Homo sapiens: one gene and its partner. The protein of the gene in region 1 purifies or fractionates together with the protein of each later gene. This does not show direct contact. Each region holds a gene or a part of one and is shown in the gene's direction. Other genes may lie near its edges.

Region 1 (3,500 bases):
GACACTGAGTAGCCAGTCGTTTGAACCACAGTGGTGTGGGGTGAGGGCATGGGATTTCTGCACATTCTTGGGGCCTAGGTCTTGTGTCCCTCTGCCAGCTGCAGTCCCTGTGGCTGCGTCTGTGTGTCTGAGATGTTGTGAGCACAGTGGGGTTTAGCTGTGGCTGTGACGCTCACTAAACTGTGAGCTCTGGCATTGGCTTTGGGATGTCGGAGAGTGCACGTTTAGGCAGCATTCCTGTCACTGGTCCTCACTAGTAATAACAAAGATCCTTGATGATGATGGTTTCCAATACACGAGCCAGGTACAAGGCTAGGGGCTTCACATCTGTTATCTCTCTTTATTTTATAACTCTGCAGCCTGGTATTTCACATTTGCAGATGGGGAGACCGAGGCTCAGAGAGGTGAAGTGACCCTCTTGGCAGTCACACAGTGGGTGGTGGAGCTGGCCTTGGAACCTGGACCTGTTTTGTCACCCGAGGCCCTGCTCCTTCCAGAGCTCTGCATCCTTCTGAGGTTCCTTACCCTGGTCCCCTCCACAAACTCATTTTCACCTAAAAAAGGAGATAATCATGGCTTGCTTGTGGTTGTGAGGGGCTCAGATTGCCTGGGAGCTGGGCCTGTGGTCACTCTGTATCCATGTGTACTTGTGTGTCTGTGTTTGTATGCATGCAGGTCGTGTACAACGTGGGACTCTGCATTTGTCTGTTTGATATCACCAAACTGGAGGATGCCTATGTATTCCCTGGGGATGGCGCATCACACACCAAAGGTGGGTATCTTCTGTCCCTGGGGCATTGGGCTTCTTGGGGCTCAGTTTTCTGTAGCCAAAGGTCAAGCCAAATCCAGGTTCAGTGGTGCGTGCCTGTAAGGCTGAGGGCGGAAGGATCTCTTGAGCCACAGAGTTCAAGGCCAGCCTGGGCAACATAGCAAGACCCTGTCTTTAAATACATAAATAAAATATGAAAAAATTTTAAAAGGCTAAAGTCAAAGAGATGGCCAGAGGGTGGTGGGAGTCCTGGAGGCTGGGAGACGTGGGGCCTCATCCTGAATCGGCCAGGAATTGACCCGGTGACAGCGGCAGACTTCTCTTCTCTGGGCCTCTGTTCCCTCATCTGTGAGGCCTGGGATGTGGACTAGTTGGTTTTCAAGGCCTCTTCAGCTCTGACTTCATAGCTCTGTGTCTGTGCCCTTTTGGTCTCATTGCTACTGAGCCCTGCACCTTGTCCATTCCTCGGGCTTCCCGCTGCCTGTGGAGAGCAGACGGAAGGGGGATCAGCAGGCTGGCTGGGGGTGGGGGACTTGGATAGTAGGACACAGTAGGTAAGAGTGTGGCCTCAAGATTAAAAGCTGAGCTCTGCTTCTTACTAGCTGTGTGTCCTGGCTGAATATGTCATTGCTCTGTGCCTCTGCTTCCTTATCTGTCAGTTGCAGTTCAGGATGTCAACTGCAGTTTAGGATAGATTTTATATTCTAAGACCATTGTGAGGATTAAGGAGTTAATACATGAAAGCTCTTAGGACAGAGCCTTGGCACCTAACGAGCACTCAGTGACTTATCAGCGTGGATTGTTTCTCCCTATTCTGTCGGTCAGTTGGGTGGTTTTCCTCTCATCTGGCTGGCCTGGGGCTGGACAATCTAGGACGGTCTCACATTCTGAAGGTTGGCAGACTGGTTGGTTACTGGGGGCCTGGGCTGGGCTGGCCCATCTCTGCCCCACATGGTCTCATCTTTCAGTAGGCCAGGCTGGGCTTGGCGGTTTTAAGGTTCCAAAGTTCAGTGCGTAAGTACTTCTCAAGCCTCTGCTTCCATCCCGTTGGCTAGGGTGAGGGGATGGAGAAATAGACTTCACCTCTGGGTGGGAGAAACTGCAGTCACATTGCAAAAGGGTGTGCATCCAGGAATGGAAGGTGATCACCAGATCCTGGAAGGAGGGAGGAGTAGAGAGAGGACCACCCTGAGAGGAGCCAGGACCACCAGTCAAGGGAGGTGATGAGCCCCAGGAGAGGGGCATTCTTCATTCTCATGTCTGGACCAAACCAGTGTATAGGAGATGGTGAGAGGCCCATTGAGACGGTTCAGGCTCCCAGAGCGCAGGCGCCAAGCCTGCCATCCCTTGGGCACTCAGAGCGCAATTCTCAGCCTGCCCCAGGCCTCCCTCCGCCTGAGTCAGAATCTTGGGGGATGGGTCCAAATACTTTTTTTTTTTTTTAAGACAGAGTCTTGCTCTGTTGCCCAGGTTGGAGTGCAGAAGTGTGATCTTGGCTCACTGCAACCTCCACCTCCCAGCATCAAGCAATTCTCCTGCCTCAGCCTCCCGAGTAGCTGGGATTATAGGCACGTGCCACCACGCCTGGCTAATTTTTGTATTTTTAGTAGAGGGGGTTTCACCATGTTGGTCAGAATGGTCTCGAACGCCTGACCTCGTGATCCGCCCACCTCGGCCTCCCAAAGTGCTGGGATTACAGGCGTGAGCCACTGCCCCCAGCCCCAAAGACTGTTTTAACAAGGTACCAGGTGGTTGTCACACGAGCTCATGTTGGATAAGCCCTGCTGTAGTCCATACTGGTCAGCCTCTCAGCACAGAGATGCCAGAACATTCCAGAGTATGCTGTGAGACTGCCTAGTGTCTGTGTCCAGCCATTCAGGGAATTAATTAGTTCGCATGGATGTTACCATGGTACGCCGAGAGGCCGAAGAAACAGGCTGTCTTTGTACAGACTAGGAGCATTTTCATTAGCAGAGAAATAAGATTGCAGTGTGAAAACAACCACGAGGGCCTCTGTTTACAGAGAAGGATGCCGAGCTGAGCCCAGTCTCCGCATTTGGACAGGGGCCTTGGTTGTCCAGGAGACAAGTGGTAATAGGTACTAGAACTTCCAGAAAAACTTGGAGAAAAAAGTCAAGTTGCGGCCGGGTGTGGTGGCTCACGCTTGTAATCCCAGAACTTTGGGAGGTAAAGGCGGGTGCATCACCTGAGGTCAGGAGTTCTAGACCAGCCTGGCCAACATGGCAAAACCTCATCTCTACTAAAACTACAAAAAAAGCCAGGCACGATGGCTCACTTCTGTAATCCCAGCACTTTGGGAGGCCGAGGCGGGCAGATCATGAGGTCAGGAGATCTCCTGGCTAACACGGTGAAACCCTGTCTCTACTAAAAATACAAAACATTAGCCAGGTGTGGCGGCAGGCACCTGTAGTCCCAGCTACTCAGGAGGCTGAGGCAGGAGAATGGAGTGAACCCAGGAGGCGGAGCTTGCAGTGAACCGAGATCGCACCACTGCACTCCAGCCTGGGCAACAGAGTGAAACTCCGTCTCAAAAAAAAAAAAAAAAAAATTATTTGGGTGTGGTGGCACATGTCTGTAATCCCAGCTACTCCGGAGGCTGAGGCAGGAGAATCGCTTGAACCCAGGAGGCAGAGGTTGCAGTGAGCTGAGATTGTGCCACTGCACTCCACCCTAGGCGACAGGGTGAGACTGTATCTCAAAAAAAAAAAAA
Region 2 (3,500 bases), on another chromosome or scaffold:
TGTTACTGAGTACTTACCTGGTGGTGTATTATTCACAGGGTTTATACAAGTTCAAAAAATGTGTTTTCTGCCTCCCAGTGTGTTATAGGCTTATAGAGAGAGACGTGTAAGCAAGTGGAATAACATGCAATAGGTACTGTGATACAAGTAGGCGAGGGGTATTTTGGTATTACAAATGGTAGCTAGGATGTGATGCCTGAACTGAGTTTGCCAGATGTGGATGAAGTGTGGTGGTGCGGAAGCATTCCAGATAGAAGGAGGAGGCGTAGGCACAAGTACAGCTGCAAGCACAGCATATGATGTATGCCTCGCTGTGGAGTTAAGACATGGTGAAGAGGGTGGGGAGGCACTGAAGAGTTGTAGAGAATGAGGTGCTCAGCTGTGCACATGAGGACATGTACACTGGCTTTAGTGCTGAGCATTGAAAGGGACGAGCAGGAAGAGTAGTAAGGAAGTATTGCCGCAGACCAGCTGAAAGATTATGAGGGCCTCAACTGGCACAGGAGCAGAGGATAAATGCGAGGAAGGTTAAAAGGAGGTCGACTCAGTAGAATTTTTGTTTTCCTGTTGATTAAGAAGAGTCAGAAAGTTAGGACTCCCGGGTATCTAATTTGGGATTGACTGGGATAAATGGTGATATTCATTGAGATTGAGAATGGAGCTGGGGGAAGATTTAATTTTGGACATACTGATCTTAAGTAGCCTCTGAGGCTGTAAGGTATCACTGCCCAGTCAATAGTTGGAGGGGACAGGCCCATACCCAGTAGCTTACTGCAACAGTGATATTCACTCACTCATTTATTTATTCAGTATTTATTGGAGTCTTTTATGTGCCAGGCACTGTGGTAACAGGATAGACAGGGTCACTGCCCTTGAAAGAGCCCACATTTGGAACTGGGGGGCTGTGGGATGAGATGGGGGAAGCTAAACAACACTTTCAAACAGTGTTGTTTGAAATCCTCCATTCCCAGCCCTACTTGAGAAAAGACATCGCCAGGGATAGAACTTTGAAGAACACCAAAATTTGCAGGGTGGCAGAGAAAAAGAGGTGTGACAAGGCCCGGCCGGAGGAAGGAAAGACATAAGAGAATGATACCACAGAGTGTTATAAGACAGTGATCGGCATGGCCAAATACTGTGGAAAGGGAATGTGAGGGGGCATCAAGGGAGGTCTTTTGAAGTAGCAGCCTTGGTGACCTCTGTCGAGCTCTTTCACTGGCAGGTAGGTCAGAGTCCTGACTATAACGGAATGAAGGAGTGGGAAGTGAGGAACAGAGAAGCTAAATATGGAGTAATTTGGGAGAGATCGTAAGCTGAAGGGCAGGGAAGAAAGTAGTCAGAGGAGCTGCTGAGTCAAGAAAGTTTTAAATTTTTTTTTTAATGGGAGGATTTGAATACTCGTTTTAAATAGAACAGGTTGAATATCAAGGACTGAACTGGGGCAAGGTTTCCAGTCTTCAGGAGAAGGTTGGCAGGATTGTGTCTGTGGCGGAAGGGTTAGCCTTAGACCAAGGAATGGATGGTCCTTCCTTTGAAGTGGGAGGAAACGAGTATAAGAAGGGGTGTAGAGAGAGGAATTTGAAGATGTGGGAGTATTAGCTCATAGGGCTGCCGTAACAAAGTAACCACAAACTAGGTGGCTTAAACAACAGAAATTTGTTTTCTCATAGTTCTGGAAGTTAGAAGTCTGAGATCAGGGTGACAACAGAGCTGGCTCCTTCTGAGGGCTATGAGAGAGGATCTGCTCTGGGCCGTCCCCTACTACAGGTGTTTGCTGGCAATCTTTGGCATCCCTTGGCTTGCAGAAGCTTCACTGAGACCTCTACCTTCATCTTCACATGGCATTGTCCCTGTGTGCATCTCTATGTCCAATTTCTCCTTTTTTATAAGGACACCAGTTGTATTGGATTAGGGCTCACCTTAATGACTCATTTTACTTAATCACCTTTGTCAAGACCCCATCTTCAAAAACAGTCACATTCTGAGATACTGGGGATTAGGACTTTAGCATATGAATTTTGAGAGGGACACAATTCAACCTATATCATTGTCATTCTTCTATTTTTAAATTTAGGTGTAATTTATATAATAAAATGTATGGATACTAGATATTCAGTTACATTGGTTTTATAGTTATGTGCTCTATGTGGACATTGCATCACCCCAGAAAGTTCCCTTATGACCCTTTTCAGTCTATCCCCCCAAGCACCTTTTGATTTCCGTCATCATAGATTAGCTTTGCCTGCCTCTCTTGTTTTTGACTATACCCAGGGGTCTGCCACCTTCCCTGGCCACTCCTCGGTCTCCTTTGCTGGAGCTGCCTCCTGCTCCTCCTCTCTGATTGTTGGATTATTCTTGGTTGGTCTCACTTTGTGGAACTCTTCTCCATCTACATTCCATAGGTGATCTCATCCATCACGTGCCTTTAATTGCCATCCACTTGTTAATCTCTTCCTAGTTTATATCTCCAGGCCACTCCATTCCCGAATTCAAGACTCATTTGTTGCCTCCTTGACATTTCCACCTGAATGTCTAATGGAGATCTCAAGCTTAACACACCCAAACCAAATTTCTAGTAGCCCCTCCACACCTAAACCTGCTATTCCTACAATGTTCCTCGCCTCCATCAATTTTAACTCTATCCCTCTAGTTGCTCAGGCAATGTAGGAAGCAATCACCATATGTGTCATCCTTCTGTAGCCCTGAGATGAGCTCTGACCAGACAGTAGTTGAGAGAGAATGGGAGGGAGAAAGAACTCCCTTTGGGTCTTGAGACCCAGCTCTCCCACCAGACTCTCTGAGCCTTATTTTCCTTTTCTCAAACTGGCAAACTTCACTTAGGAAGTGTCATGAGAATAAAATAAAGGATTGAAAAGTGCTTAAAATCTTGAGTCATCAGGAAGAGATTAAGTTATATTCTGTTTAGGAAACCTGTAGTGTATGTATGTATGTGTATACATATTTATATGCATATGCACACATGTGATTTCCATAAAAATGTTTAAAAATTATTCTTTTTGTTTTGATTTACTTTCCTTTGCTTATTTTGGAACATTAAAATAACTTATGAAAGTACTGTTGCTGGTACAGAGTTCTGATATTCTTCTTGTTTTGGCTCACAGGAAAAATGGAGGCTGCTTCCAGCATTTTTAAAGGTAATTGTTTCACATTTAATAATAATTGGTTATTTTTCAGATGAAAAAGTCAAGAAATAAGCCATTTTTTAAAGATTAAATTTTTGTCATCAACATTTTTTGATTTTGTATAGCTGTGTTTGGAAATACAAGGAATTATAAGGTAAAATCCCTGCCTGAAAGGTGCTGGTTTGGAGAGTGGTAGTCTAATTTTAGAGAGAAGTAGTAGTACATGCACAGTAGCATGGCACATGATTAAAAACCAAAGTGCTATCAGCAAAAGAGCAATGGTCAGAGAGGGCCACCCAAATGAAGTGAGACATAAACCACATCTTAAGAGAAGAAGGTTTAAGCCTGAAAGCTGGG

What was found.
Region 2: the proteins of POLR3H (region 1) and POLR3B purify together in Homo sapiens (affinity purification with mass spectrometry; 8 studies listed by BioGRID and IntAct, with this or other methods). This does not show direct contact.

The regions. Positions count from the first base shown.
Region 1 is NC_000022.11:41,537,971-41,541,470, reverse strand, and holds part of POLR3H (DNA-directed RNA polymerase III subunit RPC8), read left to right. Parts: intron 1-675; coding exon 676-772; intron 773-3,500.
Region 2 is NC_000012.12:106,360,748-106,364,247, forward strand, and holds part of POLR3B (DNA-directed RNA polymerase III subunit RPC2), read left to right. Parts: intron 1-3,122; coding exon 3,123-3,155; intron 3,156-3,500. UniProt on the Homo sapiens protein: Catalytic core component of RNA polymerase III (Pol III), a DNA-dependent RNA polymerase which synthesizes small non-coding RNAs using the four ribonucleoside triphosphates as substrates.